Linked DNA regions of Homo sapiens: region 1 is linked to region 2. Evidence: fine-mapped expression QTL. A gene starts in region 2. The other region holds a variant in brackets. All regions are shown on one strand. Distances are from middle to middle. Region 1 overlaps MITA1 (metabolism induced tumor activator 1). Region 2 holds the start of MITA1 (metabolism induced tumor activator 1).

Region 1 (12,079 bases), 44 kb before region 2:
AACCATCAGGCACTGTTCTATTTTTTTAATTAGTGGGCATAATTTATATTAGTAACTCATTTGGTCTTCATAACAACAGAGGCAATATTATTATCTCCATTTTAGACATGAGAAAACTGAGGTATAGAAAAATTGAGTAACATGCTCAAGATAGGAAGTGGTGAAGCAAAATTTCAGATCCCAGCAGGTAGGCTTCATGGTTTATCCTTGTCTTCACCATGCTAAAAACAATGTTAGGATAACATAGGCAAGTCTGTGCAGATTGATAAGCAGTAGTAATATTTCTTCATAATCTTTCCCACAGATTTGAGAATTTTGAATTTTGCATGTAGCTCCACTGATAAAGAATAACAATGTTTTATGAACCTTTGTCAGGTCTTTTAAAATGTATAGTGAAGGATAAAAATCACTGACTGGTAAAGGAAGTTAAAATGAATGTTCATAGTGCTTTCTCCTTTGGAAAAGATACTTTCTAAGAAATGCATTATTCATTTGGGGGATTATAACAAAGCTGGGACATTTGAATGAAACATATTCATAGAATTATTGAATTTGAAATGCAAAATGTAAAAAAGAGAACACTATCCAGAAGTTGTTTTCTGCAGAAAAATTTTAAATCACTCTAGCTTTAAATCTTACATTCATACATCTTCAGCAATAATGAAGAGTCGTTTATTTGTAAATAAGTGAAATAAATTCCATCTCACGAAATGTACTATTAAAGGCGGCACCAGAATACATGTTTTAAAATTTATTTTATTCATTTATATTTTGCATTTTTGTATCTCCCTGCTTTTCCTTAGGAATTTATTTCTTGGACCTCTATTCAGTCAGTGTCTGCCCCTTGTGGTAAGCTGAGGAGCCAGCAGTCAAATGCCTATGTTCTATGTTCCTGCAGGTTACAGTGTGTGTGGGGCCCCTGCAGTTCAGCACAGAGCCAACCCTCGTTTTCTTAGAAGGTGTGGCAGGTTCAGTGGAGGACTAGGGGAAGGGAAAATAGCAGTTGAGATGTCCCCTGAAGGGAGCTACAGCACGGCAGGGTCTGACACTGGCATCATTTTGGGGCATCTATGATTGCAGCTGGGAAACACGCTTGCCCAGGAAACAATCACGATGGAGTAGAGAAGCTTGCTGTTTCCTCTTTGTGTCTGGGAGACCACATTATTGCTTAGGCTTGTAAGGTTTGAAGGGAAGTGAGCTCATTTGACCTGGTAGAGACCATAATTGATCAATCTGTCAGATACATATTTGTTAGAGAGTGGTTGTGCTTTGTAGAAAAACATAAATCAAAATGGTGACTTCATATATTTAATATTTGACTTTATTTACAAATAGCATGTTAATTATACACAGAGAGATATACACCTAGTTAAAATGCACAGTTATGCTAACACCAAATAGAAAGTATTTTTCTTTGTTCCCAATGCTGATATTCTGGCAATGTCTTTATTAAATTTTTTTGTTAACACATTGAATACATTTGTAAGCAGCCTGGAGAAAATGAGAGGTTAAAGGAAGTGAAGAAAGATGGAATGTATTCACACTGACTCTGAATGAATATATTTCACCTCTATTCATTGCTTATAATTCATTTTTTCTGTTGTGACAAGATCCTACTTATGGAAATACTGTTGACTTCAGCTTAGATATAGAAACTTAAATACCTGACTTCAGTCAAGTGTGTTGGGAAGAAGCAGGACAGCTCGCAGCCTTGTGAAGCAATGGAAGGCAATATATCAACTGAGCAGTTGTGAGTCCTGGATCCACTCCCAGGTGTCTCACTCATCTGCTTCATGGCCTTGGCTAATTTGCTTAACCTTTGTGCCTGACAATTTCCACAGCCACAAAATGGGGTTGATTACATTACTGTGTGAGAAAACTTTCGGACACTTTAAAGTGGGGTACAGAGACAACAGATAAACACAGTGATCCCAGGGACTGCTCCTCCCCAGATCGTCCTGCTAAGTGCTTTTAACACAAAAAAGTATGGAGTTGAGGAGACACAGGGAAACTTTTGGAGATGATGGATATGTTTATTATCTTGATTGTGGTGATAGTATTGCCAATGTATACATAGATCCAAACACATCAAACTGCACATATCAAACGTGCAGTTTTTTTATTTATGAATTATATCTCAATAAAGCCATTTAACAGAGAAGGAGAGACAGAACTCAGTAAGCTATGAATAAACTTGATTGGGAAGGATACTTACAAGACGCTACACATTTAAGAGGTGGGATGTTCTGGGAGATCCAAAACTCATCATCACTGAGGGCAGCCTGCTCTGTAAGGACTTGCTCTGCCTGCAGGAAACAGTTGGATAATTTCCTTCCTTCCCCTTCCACACCCACATAATATTAGTGAAAAAAAATTGGAAGACTTGATTTTCCTAGGGGGAATATTAAATCATAGATGAGAGAAAGAAAATATGACCTCACAATATTATACCCACTCTATTGTCATACATGTGTAAAGCAACAAGTAGTCATTCTCAAACATGAAAGATATCAAGGATTCTAGAACCCAAAGACCCTTCTCAAATAAACTATTTGACAATAAAATTTAGCAAGTTAAGCAATACATCAAAACAAAGAAATATGAAAAGGAGATGTCTCAGCATTGAATTTACGGTTATAAAAAAGAATATAAGTTTTATAAATTGGACAATATAAAAACACAACTTAAGAAAAACTGGGACCTAAGAGAGGAGGTCTGAAAGCATAATTATATTTGCAAAGCATGGCATCAATCAATATTGTCCAAAATTAAAATATAAAGTTAAAATAAAACAATTACTCAAACTTAAAAAAAAACATAAAAACAAGATTATTATTTCATAGCTGTTAATTAAAATGATGTGGCATCTATAGTAGGACAAGATTTTAAGCACTTGATGTACGAAGACACAACATGTGATCCCACAAAAACCATGACACACAGCTGATGAAATCTTTGATTTTCAACTATAAAACATACAAAGCTGCCTACTTAATTACTTTACTCCTTCCCTTTTAGAATCCATATATTTGAGAGCTCCCTCTGGTGGTTGAATAAAATATAATTTTCATATTAGTAATACCAAGAACTTTTAAATAAAATATAAAGCTATGATCTACATTGAAATTACTTCCTGTAGACTACGAAAGCCTTCTTATTTTTAATATGATAGACATCATGGTATAGTGATGACAGTGATTGATGATGATGATGATGATAAAAAGAATTCTTTTTATTCAACTCTGACTCGTGTTTATTGTCACAATAGTAGTTAATGTGTTTGGAAACAACCTGGCAAAAACAAGCAGAGAAGGCAAATTCCTTAGAAACAAATTGTATGTTTTTAAATAGTGCAAAATTTTAAAATTAAATTCTAGAAAGTAAAATGGAAATTGAGAAAACATCCTAGGACTCACAAACAGTACAAAGTATAACATATATTCCAAAGTATAACAAACAACAAACAAACAGGGCATCAAGAACAATGAAGATACTACATAATAACATTTCCATTATTACAACAAATGTGTCTCAACAACTTTTTGTTTTACCTAATTCTTCTATCAATTCTTCTGCAGAGTAGCAAGCAGAATGAAGTATTTCAGTGATACACTTCTTAACCCTAAAATCTCCTGGGGGAATCCTAATGTGCAGCCTCTGCCCTTTAACTGGATCAGGTCTTGTCATTGTCTATAGCCCTCTACCATTACTACATAGGACTGAGTACTTACACAATGATGCCAGGAAGTGCTTTGCCATGGCCAAGCCCTGGTGATTGATCCTGTAAGCACAGGACCTGATTTTCTCCTGAAATGCTGACTTCCACTCCATAGTCTGCCCTGTCCCTTTGCCTAACACTTTGTTTCCCGCTAGGATTTGAAGGCTTTTCTGAACTCTGGGTCGTGTGCCTGAGTCCAGAGACCATATGTAGGTCAGTCCTTTTCTTTTTGAGTCAGTACCATAGGATGAGGGTCCTGCTATCAAGGTTTAGCTCTCTAGGAAAGACTGACAGCCTGGCCACCTTTCCAACCATGCTGTGAATCACACTTTTTGTGCCCTCACTTGTAGGGTGGTATCACTTGGTGTGCACACCTCCAGAGTTAGGAATGAGAGGGATTCAGTATTCCAGTTACTCCAGTCACAACTCCTTCCGGTCATACCCTCCAATGGGGTAGTTTTGACAGTAAGGTCAGTGTTCTCAACCCGACTCTGGCTGAATCCCCAGATTCCAACAAGACCTCAGCCAGCCTAATGCCAAAGATTCAGTTGGGATACCTGCATCCAAGCATATAACTCCAAGTTATTTCTACCACAACAACATTGAGAGTTAGTATGAGAAAAACATTCTACAAACTGTAAATCCCATGTACATTACATATTAACAGCAATTAGCTTTTCATTTCCATTAATGCAGTAGTCCTATCAGATACACTGTGTGCTAAATAGAATCTGTGGGTCTTCCTGAGATTCTGACTATCATGACCAAATGTTTTTCAAACAAAATGTGCTAAATCCTGAAGCAGCCATTGGCAGGGCTCACTCCCAAATAGCTAGTCAAACTGTCAATGCAATAGCACTTGGTAGACGTAGGTAAAAGGTGCTTTGTTGCAACATGTTTTCCAAAGAGAAAGTGTGAAACAACAAGATTCTGTCAACATTTTGATATTTTTAGTGTATATAAAAGAATATCTGCCAATCAAAATAAATAAGGGACAATGGAGAATTAGCATACAATGGAGAATTAGCATACAAAGTTCTACTTGGCTTTGTATTTCTGATGTCTGCAAGAGAGTATGCCCTAATGAAATCTGTCCAAAGGGGTTGTGCCATGTCACAGTTTAATGTAATGGGCTGCTAATACGTAGGCACAATGCCCTTCTTTTTCTGGCTAGATGCACTTAGGTTAGTCAAAGTGTAGAGCAAGTCTGCCCTTAATCACAAAGTTTGCTAAAACACAGCTAAGTAGAAAAGTCAGTGTGCCTTTATGCCTTTAAATACTGAGATTGGCATCTCCGCAGTAGATGTGTGCATATGTGTGTTCACATCTATTTTTCAGTATTGTCTGATTTCATCCTCACAGGCCTACGTTTCAGCTACCTTATAACTTTTCCAATATAAAAAATTCTTTAGCCCCTAAAAAAAAAAAAACCCTTCTGTGGAACATGTGGCCTAATGGTTTCTGTTAACATGAACTTATGCAAACAAAAATTGTCTTCTACAAATGTTCATATTCTATTCACAGAAAAATATAGTAGCCAAATGAGTGCCTTCATCAGGACAACTGGTATAAACTTCAGACTTTCTCCTAAATCATATTATCTGCCAAAAGCCAAGTGACACATCCTACTTTGCAGCCTCACAACACATGTGACTCAAAGCCATGTGTCAGCAATATTACCAGTCACCACATTGGGCAATTAGGGGGTTGCTCTTGATTTATCAAAATTGTGAATGTTTGCTGCTTCAAGGTGGAGGGTTCTGCTGCTTTAATTCAGAACCTTTATGGGCTACAGCTCATATGCTGTCTTAGTTCATTCTGTGCTTCTATAACAGAATATCTAAGACTGAATAATTTGTAATAAACAGAAATATATTTTCTTAAAGTTCTGGAGGTTGAGAAATCCAAGATCAAGAGGCTGGCACCTGGTGAGAGCCCTCTTGCTGCATCATCCTACGGCAGGAGAGCAAAAGAGCACTCAGGTGAGAGAGAGGAAAGGAGGCCAACCACATCCTTTGATCAGGAATACTC[A/T]CCTGCAATAATGGTGTTAAGCCACACAGGAAGGCAGATCCCTCATGGCCTAGTTTTACCTTAAAGGTCCCACCTCTCAACACCATTGCATCGGGATTGTTTCTAACAAGTGAACTTTGGGGGACACGTTCAAATCACAGCATATGCTAAATAGCAACACCAGAGACATTCCATTCCCAGGTCAATTTCCAACAGAGTACTTAAAACTTTTTCCCTTTCCTCCCACTTGAGAGAATATGTCAGAAATCAGTGACAATGACATCATAATAAACATAACCTAGAACACGTTACATTTTGTATTTTTAAAAACCATATAATATCACAAACTTAGAAATATTAGTAATTTGCAACATATTCTCACAATGACTCACCACACATCCTATGTTAAAAGAGCATGTTTTAAAAGTGTTGGTCTATAGGTTTCATTGTAAAGTGATGGGATTTTTATAGCACTTTACGTGCATTTTTCATTCAATTCTCACAATATCCTTATAAAGTAGCAGGTGAACATATCATTTCCCTCGTATTACAATTTCCTTTCACACATTTATGGGATCATGAATTAAGCATGGGCCAAATATTTGCTGCACAGATACAGGAAAAGGGAGGGAGGGATTACTTTTATAATTAAATTTGCAAGGCTAACATTTAGAAGACTTTTTATTTCTTCTTAACTGCTTCACCTATAATTGCGAAATGATGCTGTTATACCAGTAGTTTTTGGTGTTTGTTATACTAATTTATTTTTCCTTTCTGATAATTTATAGAAAAAATAAGGGCACTAAATTAAATAAGTTCTAGGAAATACTGCATATTATGTCTGTCTTGTAAGTTCACAGTGTTCTTTTGCATATTCATGGTGCTGAAAAGTCTTTCAGTAAGAAGCAACAGACACTGGGGTCTATTTGAGGGTGGAGGGTGGGAGGAGGGAGAGGAGCAGAAAAGACAACTACTGGGTCCTGGGCTGAATACCTGGATGATGAAATAATATGTCAAACAAACCCACGTGACACCTGTTTACCTATGTAACAAATCTTCATATGTAACTCCAAACCTAAAATAAAGGTTAAAAAACAACAACAACAAAAATTAACAACCAAGCTCCCTATCTGAAAAAAACGTCCTTCAGTAAAGAATCATGTTTAATATTGTTTCACTTCTGTTATTAACATTTTTTTGACCATGGAAACTTTTGCTCCTATAAATGCTGTTAACACGATTTGGAACCGACTTCTGTAGAACATATTTTGAGAACTGCTACTTGAAATGTTAACTGTCTCAGGGTTCAAATAATCAAGCGCCCTATAGATGTTTTACTCACTTGTTTTTATATAAAAGAAAAAAATAGGTTACTTCTTGTGAGAATTTCTTATAAAGGATTCCTCTGAGAAACTGAGAGAGATAACTAAAAATAAATACAAATGAGAAACAAAATGTTCATCAATTCTTAAACCAATAAATACTGCCAATGATACACAGATTGAGCATCCCTAATCCAAAAATTCAAAATCCATAATGCTCCAAAATCTGAAAATTTTGAGCAGTGACATGACACCACGAGTGGAAAATTTCACACCTGACCTCATGTGATGGGTCACAGTCAAAGCACAGACACACAGCACACAGTTTACCAAGCATCCCCAAGAGAAAAAAGACCCCCCCCCCACCTGCTTCTGCTGCAATGTATCTTTTCTGAGCACATCATGACAGTTATACCAAACAACCACAGATTGTCCACATGAGTGGCTGAGATAGTGACACCTTTGCTTGCTGATGACTTAATGTACACGAATTTGTTTCATGTACAAAATTATTAAGAATAATGTATAAAATTACCTTCAGACGAGGGTCATGGGGTGTATATGAAACATCAATGAATTTTGTGTTTAGACTCAGGTCCCATCCCCAATATATCTCATTATGTATATTCAAATATTTCAAAATCCAGAAGAAAACCTGAACTCTGTAACACTGAGGTCCCAAGCATTTCAGATAAGGGACACTTACCGTGTATCACAACTTTCTGGCAGGAATCTCTGCTAGATACAGTAAATTTGAATCAGCGTGAAGAAAAACATCGAAGATTGATATGCAACTTCCCTTCCTGAAAATGTGCAGTTTTCAGGGAAGTAATTAGAGCAAATTCTGACACTTCTCACTAACAGTAAGTAATTGGAGAACTGGCTGGAAGCACAGACAGCTTTGGGGGAAATGGGTCTCTGCCATAGACTGTCGCTGCCCCAAGCTAATCAAACTCAGAAAAATGAACAACCACTCCTCCGTATATTGTTATTGTTTGTTTCTTCATTGATTCCACTTTTCTTAAAAGTAACTATTTTCTCCAACATGGCAGTGGGAAAGGGATCCTCAGAATCTAGAGACTTTTGAAGCAAGATTGAGCAATTTTCACAGATGTAAAAGTTATTACTCAAGAAATGGGAGAAAAAATGTAGCTTCAGCACGCTGAAAGCCCACAGGCCCCAGGGCTTTTAACCAACCTGACTTATAATCTATCTAGTTAACATACCTGAATAATCCAAAATCAAAGGCATACTCCTTAGTACCTTCAACGCAGGCCACACACAACCCACTCCCCTCTTCTCCTCCTAGCTCCCTCCACCAACCCACACACACTAGATCTCACACAACACACTAGAACTGAAATTTGGTGCATTCTTTCCTAGCAAATATATAGAGAAAAAATGCAGAAATAAAGCTTTGCATGGCCATAGCTCTTTTCCTACCTGCCCAGGTGCAGCATGACTGAATTTATATTTAAATTTGAAGGATGAATTAAAATGGCAGCCAGGTAAACAGGAGAAACCATGAATGATCTATCCATGTTATTTTAGGAACAAAAGCTGTCTTGTACAGTCTTTATTCAAAGATGAGTACAAGCAAAAAAAAAAAATGTTTTAAAAATATGGCAGAAAGCACAGCATGTGAAACATAGATTAGGCGTATTCTTTGCAAATAGATTTATTTCAGGAAAGAGGATAAAATTTTAAGGAGAAACTGTAGTGTCAAGGTAATTATAAAGCTGTACAATAATATAAGCTATCATATACAGATAATTCTCCATTTTTCAAGTTCCCAGGAAAGTTATTAACTCTGTGTAAAGTATTCAACCCTGTTCATATAAGTTTAAAAATCTGTTTGAAAGACATTTTTTTGTGGAAAAATATAAGTGGACCAAAATAAATCAATAATAAAAGAAAACTGACAGAGCTATTATAGAACAACAAAATGTTGTAGAAGAATTCTTTCAGATTTCAGGGAAGAGTTTACTTCTATGAGCTCAGAGGAAGAAGGAAGGCTTCACATGATTTTATACAAAATTCATGTAACCCCGAAGCAAAACTCAACCAAAACAACCTACAAATAATAAAACCCCAGACCCATTTCAACATAAATTTAACAGCAAAAATTAGTAATAAGATGTTAATATTTGTAATCCATTGCTGTACTGAAATTCTATTAATGACCAACTGATGTTCATTGCAGAACATAAAAATGGTTTAATGCTAAAAGATTTGTTAATATAATTTCTCCCACAAATAGACTGAGGAAAAGAATCTGTAGTCACCATATGTTCTAAAAAGTCATCAAATGCCTATTCAACTTTTTTTAAAACTTCTTAATAAAGACCTTTAGCATATTTTTTAAAGAAAAAAAAAGCTTAAACTAACAGCCAGAAATTTTCTCTCTCACCATTACTAATAATATTCTTCTAGGAAAGCTAGCCAAAGGAATCACTGAAAAATGTTTTCTAAGAATATTAAGTATAAACAATCAAAAGGAGGCATTATATGATAAAGACTCAAAATTTGTTAAATTTTATTTGTAGACAAAATAGTTTGCTACATAAAGAAAACAAGAATATTGACTAAAAGTAACTTAGAGAGTTCAGCAAAGACAATCAGTTGAGAAATTAGTATTTTTAAAGGTAGCTTTTCTATAATAAGGAAACAACTAGTTAAAATAAAACAAAGATATTTCATTCACAATAGCAACTGTTATATGGTAGCCTTACAAACATCAAACATTACTAGGGAGACATAGGACTGGATGTGCTTTCTTCCTTCACTTTCTTATTGTTTAGATTTCTGTATTTTTTTAAAGTGTTAATTTTATTAACAAAAACAAAACATATTAATTATCAAAAACTAAAGACCTATTTTCTTTAAAAACTAAAAAACTAAATACATTAAGATAAACATCAAGATATTTTATCATTATATTTTAATAGATAAGACAATTTAATAAAGATTAACTTCATAGAATTACTTTTTAGTGCTAAAAGAGTCTTTAGAAGACATCTAACTCAAGCCTGCATTTTCAAATAAGAAGTTCAGGGCTTTACTGGTTACAGGATTTGTTTAAGGTTTCTAGTCAATGGCAAAACCATGTTTAAAACTCAGGACTTCTGACTTTGAGTCCACAGTTTCTTTATTTTTTCCTGACTTCTCTTACCCGTTCTACTCCTCATTATACTTACAAGAGTAATTCTTAGCTATTCATGATCTTTGTTCAATTTGACTTAGATTTTAGAGTATTAATGAAACACTCATTCAACTCACACTAATACGTTGAACTTGGAATCAAGATCGGTCAGTGGCTGTTTAGGGATTCGGTGGAGCTTGGCACTGCAAATTCTTGCATTTAGCTTCGCTCATCTGGTACTGACTATTCCGCTACAGCCATAAGGCATTTATTTTCTGCTAAGTTGATATAAGTAAAAATGGGAAAATGCTCCACTTTCTGGGGGCTCCTCTAGCCCTCACTTTCTTTCCTGTTCACCAAAGAACAGAAATATGTAAAGAAGACATTTCCTACACATTCACAAAAGTATATATCCTTCTTGCCCATTCATTAAATATCCAGAATAAAAGGTCTTTATGGCCAGATGCTATCTATTGCTTATTTTAAAATGGTTACATTAACTTATAATCATGTTTCCATAATTCCAATCCACAAACTTGATTCAGAGATAACAGTTCCTTCTTTTAAATCTAGTTATATATCCAAGCTTAGCCAATCATAACCTCCATGGACAGCATTAATTTTTAATATAATAACTAATAACAGTAAGTTACAAAGTGTGAACAACTGGAGACAAGGATGGTATATAAATCACAGGAGTGCAAGCAGCTCAGTTTAGGCAGGGAAAGAGACAGAGGTTCTGGCTGAACTCCTTGGGAAGCAGAGGCAGAAGAGGAGAGAGACTAAGAGCAGAACTCTACTAATTTTTGACCAGCCTGGAAGTACTGAACTACCCTGAGCAACAATGGTCAGAAGGACACCCGTCATGCAGCCCCACCTCTACATTACTTGCATGTGCTGATTATCTAATCCATTCTCTGGATGACTATTTTCATAAATGTCTTTCTCCCTCCTCATGCTCAACACCTCTTCTATTGTCACTCTCACCCAATGGCTCTGCTTTCTACTTTGTTCAAAAAAATATATATAAATAAACTGAAGCAACAGAAGACACTCTAACAAGCTCTCATCATTATATTTGCACCTAGTAACTACCTTCACTCTGTTTTCCTTTGTTATAGATAAACTGCCTGCATTCTTACCCAAGGGCAACTCCTCAATTATTCACTATGTTGCCTTAGGTTACGGTTAACCTATTCAAGGAACCAGCTCCCCAAATCTCTCTTCTTTCTCCTGCAACATCAATTTCCCCATCTCTATATGTTATCATTTCCATCAGCATACAAGTGTACTGTTACTTCTACCATATGAAACACTTTTTTCTTTCTTTCTTTCTTTCTTTCTTTCTTTTTTTTTTTTGAGGTGGAGTTTCACTGTTTTTGCCCAGGCTGTAGTGCAATGACACGAACTTGGCTCACTGCAACCTCCATCTCCCAGGTTCAAGTGATTCTCTTGCCTCGGGCTCCCGAGTAGCTGGGATTACAGGTGCACGCCACCAGGCCCAGCTAATTTTGTATTTTTAGTAGAGATGGGGTTTCACCATGTTGGCCAGGCTCATCTCGAACTCCTGACCTCTGGTGATCCGCCCTCCTTGGCCTCCCAAAGTGCTAGGATCACAGGCGTGAGCCACCTTGCCCAGCTGAAACTAATTTTTTAAATGAAACACATTCATTTCTCTGCTCCTTGTACCTTCATATCCTCCCTTTCTCCTACTCCTGTCACTCTGCTGAACCATGGCTAGATCAAAGTCTTCAGTGACCTCCATATTGCTAAACCACTGGCAGGTTCTTAGCTTTCACCTTATTTGATTACCTAGAAACATTTAAAATGGCTCATTACTTGGCTTTCAAGACAAGCTCCTTATTTTCTTCCTCTCCTACTGGTTAT
Region 2 (12,079 bases):
TCTAAAAATAAAAGGATTTCAACAAGACAGCCTTCCATATTAGGAAGACTTCCATATTAGGAAAAGAAATCTAAAATCTATATTAAATATTAGAAGGCTTCCATATTAGACAGCCTTCCATATTAGGAAAAGAAGTCTAAATCTATATTAAATATTAAAATTTTAACAAGCTTGTCACAACTTTAGATATATCAATATCAATCAGTAGTTGGTTTTGTAACATTCTTGGATGTGAACACAAGTTCGCTCAGATATGGTTCTGTGTAATAACAGCGAGTCAAGACTTGTGCAGTCTGATGTCTCCCTTTTCCACAAGTCATACATGGGTAGAATTTGTAAACTGAAACATATTCTGTTGACTACAGAGAATTCCAGGTTGAAAAAGATAGTAACTGCTCTCCAAGAGCTCATAAGAACAAGTTGACATCTTCATATAGTAACTGGATCATATAAAGGGAATCTATCCAGTGATTTAAACAAAATATGTTTACATTTTTTTCAGTTTGCATGAAGAAATTTGTTGTAGGTGTATTCTTTTCTAATTAATCTTCTATAAAGGCAGTGGTTGAAAGCATAGTCCCTCCAAAATCTAGTACAGTCATGCACTGTATAACAAAGAACTGCCTGCAGGACAGTGGTCTAAGATTACAATGGAGCTGAAAAATGTCTGTCACCTAGTGACATTGTAGCCATTGTAACAACTTAGCACAACCAATTACTCATGTGTTTGTGGTGATGCTGGCATAAACAAACCTACTGCACTGCCAGTCCTATAAAAGTATACCACATGCAATACTGTACAGCACCCAACACCTGATAATAAACAATTATGTTATTGGTTTATGCTTTTACTATACTTTTATCATTATTTTAGATTGTACTCCTTCTACTTATTAAAAAAAAAGTTAACAGTAAAACAGCCCGGGCAGCTCCTTCAAGAGGTATTCCAGGAGAAGGCATTGCTATCATAGGAAATGACAGCTCCATGCATGTTATTGTCCCTGAACACCTTCCAGTGGGACAAGATGTGGAGATGGAAGACAGTGATGATGATCCTGACCCCGTGTAGGCCTAAGCTAATATGTGTGTTTGTGTCTTAGTTTCTAACAAAAAAGTTTAAAAAGTAAGAAAAAAGCATATAGAATAAGGATATAAAGAAAGAAAATATTTTCAACAGCTGTACAATGTGTTTGTGTTTTAAGCTAAATGTTATGACAAGAGTCAAAAAGTTGGAAAAAAATAAAAGTTTATAAAGTAAAAATAGTTAGAGTAAGCAAAGGTTAATTTATCATTTCTCGGAATATATTGTTAAATGATGCAAGACTGTATATAAAAGAAAGCCCTGATTGCCAACAATGCAACATTAGCATATAAAGGGATTGGATAATGCAAATCTATGTAAAAGCTACAGCGGCCCTCTCTGAAAGGCGATTTGGGAAATATTAGACTTCTTTCTTAGACAAGCCAATACTCAATCCAGAATTAGATGAGTGCCGATGGGAACATTTCAGTAAGGAACATAAATTTAGACCCCAGATAGAGAGTGGATTCTGATTGTTTAGAATTATAGAATTTTGGGACTGAAATTAAAGAGGAGGGAGAAATGGAGAGAAAATAAGAAAAGAAATCAACAGAGTATCTTGGGTTTCTTGGTTCCATGCTTTCCCCGTTCTGCAGAACCTAATTTTATCCATTAATATATAAATATGCTCAAGTGTTTCTAATAATTGAAAATAAAAACTTCCATGCCTTTCAAATCATTACCCTATCCCTTTTATTATTACCAAACATTTTGTAAAAGTTATATTCTCTTACTTTATTTCTTTCTTCTCTCAACCCCTGCAAGCTAGTATATTATTTGCATCTACACTGCTCTTCTCAAACTGTTGCCATGAGGATCATGGACAATCTCTGCTCTGCCAAATTTAATAGACACACTTTTCAGTCTCTATCTTATTCAACCTCTTTGTGACATTTGGAAATACTGGCTACTTACTCTATCTTGAAATTCTATTTTCCGTTGCCTTCTGAGACACTGACTTCTGACTTTCCCACTTTGCTGCCTACTATGTATTCGTCTGTTTTGTTGATGGGCACCCCTTTCTCCAGCTACTTTTTAGGGTTGCTCATGCCTCAAGATTCCTGCTAGCATTAGTTCTCTCTTCTGTCTTCTAACATGCAGGTTGAGTAATTGCATTCATTTCCATGGCTCTGGCCATCACTGATATGCTAACATACCCATCTCCAGCAAAGTTCTGACAGTCTGACATGGCTATTTTGATTCAGCCTTCAAAATAAACCCTTCTTCATTTTCTCACTTGTAATGCTCAAAACTGACAGTCTCGTCCTATTCCTGGGCTTCATCCACGGAATCAAGTAAGTTTTATTGTTGAACTCTAGTAAGTCTGCCAGAAACAAATAGTTCACATGTTTAACAGTTGACAGTTTTAGAAAACAATAGAATTTCCAATTTATTTTATGAAACTAGCATAACTGGACAAAACTAGCCCAGTATCAGTTGAATATAAAATTAAAAATAAACATAACCCAATTATGACTATAACTGTAAAATTCTAGGTTAAATATTACCAATTTGAACGTTGCATTATGTTAAATTTATGGTTTATTTAGGAATTCAGCAAAAAAACCATGACCATGTAAATAGACGCTCATTAGTCATTTGGTAAAATTTAAATTTTATCAAATTACAGGTCATCCTCTCATAGCTGCTTGTTTATTGGACAGATAAATTAACCTTTATTGATCCTCATTTAACTATGAAAATGGGCCTATACTACTTTAAACTTCTGATTCAAATAATATATCATGTTTCTCTTTTAATGATATTTTTCATCTTTGAAATTAGATATTTAACATCTGTTTTTCCCACCAAACTGAAATCACCTCAAAGACATACACTGCTATCCACAATGTGTAACTTAACATGTGTGAGTGTGCATGACCATTATAGAATTTTGAAACCCAGTGCAAAATGAAAATAAGAGTCCCTTTATCTAAAAATGAGGAATTTCAATACAGTGACAGCAGAGCATCAAATGAAGTACAAGGCCCTGTGCCAATTACACAGATCATATATCCATAATGTTGGCTGTGTGGCGCTGTGTGTGTGTTTTAAATATGTTGAATGTTATTACTGGAAAGTTAAATAAAAAGAACTTCATACTACCCATAGATAGAATGATAGATAGAATTCATATCACAGACTACAAAAAGTAGTCATATTAAGTTGGGTAAAAATAGTTCAGATATTAATCAAAAAATATTTTCTGGTTTACAATAATTGACTATTCTGACTGAAGACTGTAGAACATTAAAAGATATTGGTTAATGTTCAATAATTTTCTCTTTAAATTGACATCATATAATTTTATTTGAACTTCTTCTAATACATTATATTGATCATTCTGAGAATGTTGTCTTCTCTTTTAAAATTTATTTACCATAATTCATAAAATGTATTTACTATTTTCTCCCTTAAAGGCTTTTCTGTCCAGTTCATTGAGTCTATGAGCAAACATAATAGTAACCATTCCATTTCTTTAATCATAAAACATTAGCATTTTAAAAATTTATAAACATTTTATTCTTGTCCATCTATCTTATAAAAAATAATATTCAGTTTATCAAAATATCAAAAGCTAATTTAAGACTTCATTTTGGATTTTTTTCTAAATGGTATTAATTATCTCACAGACAGAAAAAAAAAATCATTACTTGATGTTGTTAGAATGTGCCCATTTCATATAACCCTAACAATTCCCAAAGCTTTATGAATATTCTCTTCAGAAAGATTCTTTATAGTTGGGGGCAGAATCCAGTGTAACATTTACATTGCCTTTCCTGCAGCTCTGAATAACTTCCTTTCATGCTTCCCAAAAGTTCAGATATGTACAACCCTTATTCTACCTGGATTTATGGTGATTGTGATAAAAGGAAGACGGATTTCCTTTTGTGCAAAGTATTGATGGATGCTCTTTTACTTTGTTCCTGGAAAGTTAAAAAAAGAAAAAGGTGCAGGCTATGAACAGTTACATACTTCAATGCTGCTGTCAGGGATTTAAAATAAATAAATAAATAAATAAATAAATAAATAAATAAATAAATCCCCAACCTAGGCGTGTTTCATTATAGAAATCATTTTTAAAACTCACTCCAGTGTCATGTCTGTCCTCCTCCCCACCTCCCACTCTAGGTTCCAGTCAAATGGAAATATGTGGCTTTTCTCACTCCATTCTGTCTCTCTTTTCCATTTGCTTACCCCCTTCGCTTCCTCTTTCATTCTATTTCCTTCTGCTTTCATGAACTTTCTCTTTCACACATATTCACTGATGCATTCCCACTCACCTGTTCTCTCTTACTCTGTCACCCCCCAGTACTTACTGAATGCCAGCCATGGGCTAAAGACCATAGTAAGTGGACGCTGGGCAGGAAGAGAAAGGCCATTGTGGCTGGAGGATAGTGATGTGGTACCACGAAACGTCAGAGAGGGCAGTGGGGCCCAGATCACCAGGGCACTGAGGGCCTGGTACCCAGTGGGAAGTGACCAGAAGGTGGGGCACAAAATAGAATCAGATATCCTGCTGCTCTGAGAAGAATGAAGGGGTTGTGGGCAAAAGTGAAAGCTGGAAGATCCCTTAGACAGTCTCTATAGTCACCTTAGGGTTAATTTTGGAGGTGGGGCAGACAGGACTTGTCTATGGATTTGATGTGGGAAATGAGACCAAAAAAGGAATCAGAGACCCAAGTTTCAGGCTTGAGCAACTCTGTTCTCCCTAGTTCATTGCCATCCTTTTTTTTCCTTTCTCCTTCCCTCCTCTTCCTTGTTCACGCTATAGCAGAATGTGACATACTCCTTACCAGCCCCAAGTTCATTCCTCTTCAAGTGTCAGTTTAGAAGTCACAGACTCCAGGAAACTTTCCTGAAGTCCCCACACTGGGGCAAAGCCACACACGTACTGTCATCTCCCTCCCGGCATCAGTGTGCACATTATTACTTTATTCACAGGAGTTCCAAGCAGGAGTTTCTACAGCCCAAATGCAGCAAGTCTGTGTCTAAGCTCAGTTAGCTAAGTGAAATTTGGAAAGTTACTTAAGGAAGTCTCAGTCCCCACATCTGTAAAGTGCAGATAAGAAAATGGTCTACCTCACACAAAGTTTTGCATGAGATGATATACATAAAATGCTTAGCACAAAACTGGCAGAGAGCAAATGCTAGATAAATGATAGTCGTTATTATTATCGCTGTTGTTACTGGTTTACATTATCCACCTTCATCTAAGCAGGGTTTCTGCAGAATAGCAGAAACCAAACTAATGTAGCAAATAAGCTACATAATTCAAGCCCAGGAAAAAGTTAACATTTCAGTGGCATGCATTCAAGACGAATAGTTTGATTTATTAGCCAATTCAGATAAATGTGCACGTGGAAGTCATAGTTAAATATTATCGTCAGTTTCCACGTCCTGCGTTTAATTTGGGGTTTGATTTTCCAAATACAACACTTACCAGATTAGGTGGACCCACAGGATTATTTTTCCTTGAGGTCTCACCTGAGCAGGTGCATGTACAGCAGACGGAGCAGAAAGAGACTGATTAGAGAGGTTGGAGTGGTAGAGGGCGTGACCCTCTTAATCATTCTTCACTTCCTTTTTTAAAAGACGACTTGGCATCGTCCACCACATCCGCGGCAACGCCTCCTTGGTGTCGTCCGCTTCCAATAACCCAGCTTGCGTCCTGCACACTTGTGGCTTCCGTGCACACATTAACAACTCATGGTTCTAGCTCCCAGTCGCCAAGCGTTGCCAAGGCGTTGAGAGATCATCTGGGAAGTCTTTTACCCAGAATTGCTTTGATTCAGGCCAGCTGGTTTTTCCTGCGGTGATTCGGAAATTCGCGAATTCCTCTGGTCCTCATCCAGGTGCGCGGGAAGCAGGTGCCCAGGAGAGAGGGGATAATGAAGATTCCATGCTGATGATCCCAAAGATTGAACCTGCAGACCAAGCGCAAAGTAGAAACTGAAAGTACACTGCTGGCGGATCCTACGGAAGTTATGGAAAAGGCAAAGCGCAGAGCCACGCCGTAGTGTGTGCCGCCCCCCTTGGGATGGATGAAACTGCAGTCGCGGCGTGGGTAAGAGGAACCAGCTGCAGAGATCACCCTGCCCAACACAGACTCGGCAACTCCGCGGAAGACCAGGGTCCTGGGAGTGACTATGGGCGGTGAGAGCTTGCTCCTGCTCCAGTTGCGGTCATCATGACTACGCCCGCCTCCCGCAGACCATGTTCCATGGTAAGCGCTCTTCTCCCTTGCGCACAAGTTCGCGCGCCCGACGCGCCGGGGCAATCCCAGACGCGCTGGGGGCCCCTGCTCCTAGGCAAGTCCGGGAATAGCCCGGCCTTGCACTTTGGACCTGCGGAGAGCACTGGCTCTCCCATGGGCAGCCAACAGCCGCGCCTGAGTATCCTGGCACATAGCCACTTGAACCTGGGGCGGCTGCTGCCCCTGGCAGGCTGCGAGTAACAGTCCCCAACGCCTGCTTTCTGTCCTGAGAGGGAACGCTGCAGCCTCCGCGCCGCTCAGCGGTGGCAGCCCACAGCCGGTCTCAGAAGCAGCCAAAGGCTCTCTGTCTGGCGCCCTTCCCGTGCTCCTGGCCGCCCCAAGTTACTCACGCAGGCGGCCCGGGTTCGGCGAGTAGCTGGGCTCTTGCAGCTCAGAACTCCCTAGAGAAGTGAAAGCGAAGCTCCCACGGGACGCGCTTTTAAACCCTAGGGGAACAGGTCTCCGGAAAACCCCATTTTTCCCCCCTGAGTAAGACTGGGAGTTTCCGGCAAGGGCTGTACCTTGCGCCTATTGCTGGGAAACCAGTCCTGGGGCTGGCGCTGAGGAAGGCCAGCTTCTGGGTTTTTTTGTTTTTGTTTTTGTTTTTGTTGTTATTTTTTCCTACGGGCGCTTCTTGATGGAGGCAGAATGAAATAGGCGTGACTCTAACTTCCAGACCAGTATTGAGACCTAATATATCTTATTTGTGCAGAATACGGATTTAGAATGGACAGGGACAGAATTCAGGAGGGTTGGATTCGGATGGCAGTCATATATGACCAATGAAAGAGCCAAAAAACTTACTGGAATTAAAAAAGAGGAAAAAGGATTGTGAGGGGAAAAGATCTGCTTAGGAAAATTGGAATGCTTTACAGTAAGTACTTCCTCAAGCAAGAAGACAGCTGGGGGGAGGGTGCGGGAATAGGAAACTGACTGCTCTTTCTTTTGATGGCTACTCCGTTAGATCAAGACTTCTTTCCACTCTCGTGGGTAAAGAATCAAGAATTGACACAACCAAGGAGTGCCAGCTCAGTAACAAAACAAAGATAGAGAGAGCGGAAAGAATAGCCAACGTAATTATGGAGGACTTCTAAGGAATGTCCTCCCGGAGCTTAATACAAAACTAAAAATTGAGCACAACCCTATTTTCCTTGCAATGCCCATAGTTCTGCAGTTTCTTCTTCTGGATCACCCTTGGTTCTAATCCTTGCAACACCTCTGCTCTAAAGTAGAAAGGTAAACTGAGAAAAGGAAGCTAGCGTGTGCATTTTTCAGAAAAAGCCTTTACTTCCTGAAGCACAGTTATATGAATCATGGGCTATAAGTTTTCATTAGCAGACAAAATATTAAAATTCTAATAATAATGATTATAATGCATGGCTTCCTGAAGTTTGTTTCAAGAAATTTCACTAGAAGCTTGTTCCATTAAGAGTGCACATAATGTTACTCTTTACCCTTTGTCTTTGCCATTTCTTTTGAGAGTTGAAGTAGTTGAGGATCTACTATGTGGTCTCCAACTGTCTTATCTGGTTTGGGTAATTTCATCATATTTGAGGACCAAAAAGTTGAATAGCAATAAAAATAGACTCTACTCGGGAGGCTGAGGCAGGAGGATTGCTTGAGCCTGGAAGTCAAGGCTGCCGTGAGCCATGATCTTACCACTGTCCTCCAGCCTAGGCAACAGAGTGATGCCCTGTCTCAAAAAATAATAATAGAGAACTAATATTAGAAACCCTGAACAAGCATAAAGGAGAATTACAAACTGCATCACGTTAGTGTTTGAATATTTTTTTAAAAAATGGAAAAGGCCATTTCATAGAACGAACTTACGTGTCATATTCACACTCATCTATGTGACTTTTTTTTCTGCTTTTAACCCTGACACATAACCTACTGTAACAAGAACAAATATTTAGTCTCTTTTTCTGAAATAAAAGCATATGATGCAGTTTCACAGTTTGGCCAGGAAGTACCTTAGTGAGGTTCATGCACAGGAAGATGGGTTTTTATGCAATCCCCTTGACTACACATATATGGTTATTTTTTAAGGAAGCAATGTAGTTCAGTGCCTAAAAGCTGAGGTTCTAGACTCTTCAATGTGACAGTCTTGGATTTGAATTCCATATCTATATTATGTACAGGAATTTTCTGACTAGGCATGGTGGCTCAAGCCTGTAATCCCAACACTTGGGGAGGCTGAGGTGGGCAGATCACCTTAGGTCAGGAGTTCGAGACCAGGCTGGCCAACATGGTGAAACCTCGTCTCAACTAAAAATACAAAAAAATTTGCCAGGCGTTGTGGTGGGCACCTATAATCCCAGCTACTCAGGAGGCTGAGGGAGGAGAATCACTTGAACCTGGGAGGCTGAGGTTGCAGTGAGCCGTGATCGCACCATTGCACTCCAGCCTAGATGATAGAATGAGACTCCATATCAAAAAAAAAAAAAAGAGAGAGAAAAATACGAAAGGAATTTTCCTACATGACTGTCTTTGTGCCCCAGATTCTCCATCTATAAATGTGAATAACTTGTAGTACTTACCTACTTCTTCATGAAGTGGTTATGGAATTAAATTATCAGTGAAAATAGGTCTATGCAATGGACATTCAGTAAACACTGGTTTTAAAGACTGATAAAGACTGGAGTTGATGGATTGTAGAAAACTATTTATGTTAACTTTGACCCCCATAACTTAAGCAGCTGAGGATTGAATGTATTATTTGGCTTACATTAAAAACCAACAAGAATTTTTAGACAGACCTCCTTCTGGTTTAACCAAATTCCCTACTGAAAACAAATTCTCCAATTTCAGCCTCTTCAGGGGAAGTAAGGGCAATCCCACAAGCCACGCTTGCCTTGCGTTATTCCTATGGTTTATCTTTTCGGTAACCTAATGAAAAGTTCAGGATGGTGGGGAGTGTGGGTGTGACAACAATGCCAAAAGCACTCTCAAACCAGCCATTCTTAATATGTTACTCTCTATGTGATGTAGGAGAAAGGTCTTCAATTATGGACCAAACTACCAAGCTACATCATTAATGGGAGAGCTGGGAACCTATGAGATGTGGGTCCAAGGCCCTAGGTATGTTTGCAGCATTGTCCGTGAGGCAATTTCAGATCTAAAGAGTTTCTGCATTTGGAGGACCAGGTAGATTCTTAGAATAAGGTGTCTGCAAGATGAAAAAGATCATTTAGTCTGAAGTTTTCATTTTAGAAATCAGGTAAGTGACCTTAAGAGATGCTGTGTCATTTACACAGTCACACAAACCATTGTCTTGGCAAGTCAAAAGTCTCAAGTTTTGACTTGACTACTCAGCCTAGGCTCAGTAGATCGTGGCTCACGGCCATGGCTTACGGCCATGGCTCACGGTAAGATCATGGCTCATGGCAGCCTTGACTTCCAGGCTCAAACAATCCTCCTGCCTCAGCCTCCCAAGTAGAGTCTGTTTTTATTGCTATTCAACTTTTTGGTCCTCAAATATGATGAAATTACCCAAACCAGATAAGACAGTTGGAGACCACATAGTAGATCCTCAACTACTTCAACTCTCAAAAGAAATGGCATAGACAAAGGGTAAAGAGTAACATTATGTGCACTCTTAATGGAACAAGCTTCTAGTGAAATCTCTTGAAACAAACTGCAGGAAGCCATGCATTATAATTATTATTATGAGAATTTTAATTCCAAAACCTCTGTGCTTTATATTGCCATAGTCTGTCTGGGGCTAATTATTCAATGACAACAATGGCAACAGAAAACACTCTTAACAGGCAAGGCAAATTATGTTTTAAAATTGAGAAAGTACGTGTAATATACAAAAAGACTGAATTTTCCAGCAACCCTCATTGGAAAGAATGCACAAAATGCCATCCGGTGAATAAATAGGTTGATTTAAATTTGAGGAGCACTTAACTACTGAAAATTGAGGTGAAGAAGACAGCTAATGCTCATAGCAAGTAAAACAACCTCATGTATTAAAACAAAAGGTGGACCTTTGGAATATTTATGATAATGGTAAAAGTATCCCTTTCACTCTAGCATTTAATTATTTTATTATATTCTCCTTTAAGCTCATTTCAAGTTATATGTTATATAATTTTTCCTCTATCATCTACTCCTCCCGAAGTATACCTTTTGGACCCCTGTAAGATGACAGAGAAAATAAAAAGTATGATTTCATACAATCTATACAAATCTGATTACAAGGTCAGAATCTGGTGAATAATTAGCAATTGATCATCCAAATGTCCATCAGCAGAGGTTTGGATAAAGAAAATGTGGTATGGCCGGGCTTGTAATTACAGCTTGTAATTCTGACACTTAAGGAGGCTGAGGCAGGAAGATTGCTTGAGCCCAGGAGTTCAAGACCAGTCTGTACAAAAGAGTAAGAGCCGTCTGCTAAAAACAAATTTTAAAAAATTAGCTGGGCATGGTGGGGCACCCTGTAGTCCTAGCTACTCAGAACGCTGAGGTAGGAGGATCGCTTGAACCTAGGAATTTGAGGCTTCAGTGAGCTATGATCATGCCACTGCACTCCAGCCTGGGCAGCAGAGTGAAACCCTGTCTCAAAAAGAGAGGGAGAAAAAAAGAAAATGTGGTATATGTATACCATGGAATACTACTCAGCCATAAGAGTTAAGTCGTCTTTTGCAGCAAAATGGATGAAACTTGAGGCCATTATCTAAGTGAAATGACTCAGAAAGTCAAATGCTGCATGTTTTTACTTATAACTGGGAGCTAAACAGTGGTACAGATGGACATACAGGGTGGAATAATAGGCATTGGAGACTTTGAAAGGTGGGAGAGTAGGAGGGGGATAAGGATTGAAAAATTACCTATTGGGTACCATGTTCACTATTCAGGTGATAGATACACTAAAGCCCAGACTTCACCACTGTACAGTATATTAAATATGTATTAGTAAGAAATCTGCTCTGGTCCCCCTTAAATCTATGAGTGTACATTTTTTTAATTGCCAAAATATTTTTTTTAAATTAGCAATTGATCACTGAGGATCTTTAGGTTGAAGGAACAGGAGTAGAAGAGAGAGGCAAAACTTCATTCAGAAGACAAATGTGATTACATGTTATCAATAGATTATGGCCATTTCTAATCGAATCCTGGTAAAGCAACAAATTCAGGTTAGCATCCAAACCTGGCACCTACTATGTATGTGTTACAGAAAGACTAACTTGCAGAACTTTTTGGATATTTATAAATCATATATATATATATGAGATTTTATATATAAAGTTCCTGACACATGGTAGGTACTCAACTAAAGGTAACTAGCATCATCATCATTATCTGTCTCCTAAGTTAATTCATGCTCATCATGCATATAGGCACTTAGTGGCAGAGTTATTAATATATTTGTATAAATAAAATTATCAATTTTTGTTTCTCTTACTATGTTGTCACATATGCAGATGAGAAGTTAGATTTATGTTTGTTTTCATAATTGCTACCCAGAAAATTTTCTCTATTTGTAACAACATGGGTCACTTGATTTATTGGGAGGTGTTATTGATTGTTTTATATGACAGATCATGATATAATAGATGACAATGTTACTGGAAACTTTATGATATCCCTAACAGTCTTCAGGCTGTCACAATATTAGTTCCTTGGGTTTGAAGGAGTGTTGCTTGTACTCTTAATCAGAGAAGGCACACAAGTGAAATATCTTGCATTCAAGTACAATTGAAGTTCATTTGGGAAATTCACAGGAAATACATTGT

Evidence for each region.
Region 1: its variant is fine-mapped to the expression of MITA1 in whole blood (TOPMed, PIP 0.99).

What each region holds. Positions count from the first base shown.
Region 1 is chr8:78,843,287-78,855,365 of GRCh38, reverse strand. All of the region lies in intron 1 of MITA1 (metabolism induced tumor activator 1), which reads right to left. Among named protein-coding and RNA genes, the nearest start is that of LINC02605, 12 kb to the right of the region's middle. The variant A/T (reference allele first, on the strand shown) is at 5,750.
Region 2 is chr8:78,799,142-78,811,220 of GRCh38, reverse strand. MITA1 (metabolism induced tumor activator 1) reads right to left here and starts at 6,749. Exons shown (of 3, transcript XR_002956715.2): 1 at 5,526-6,749. IL7 (interleukin 7) reads left to right here and starts at 5,758. Exons shown (of 6, transcript NM_000880.4): 1 at 5,758-6,308. The coding sequence starts at 6,299.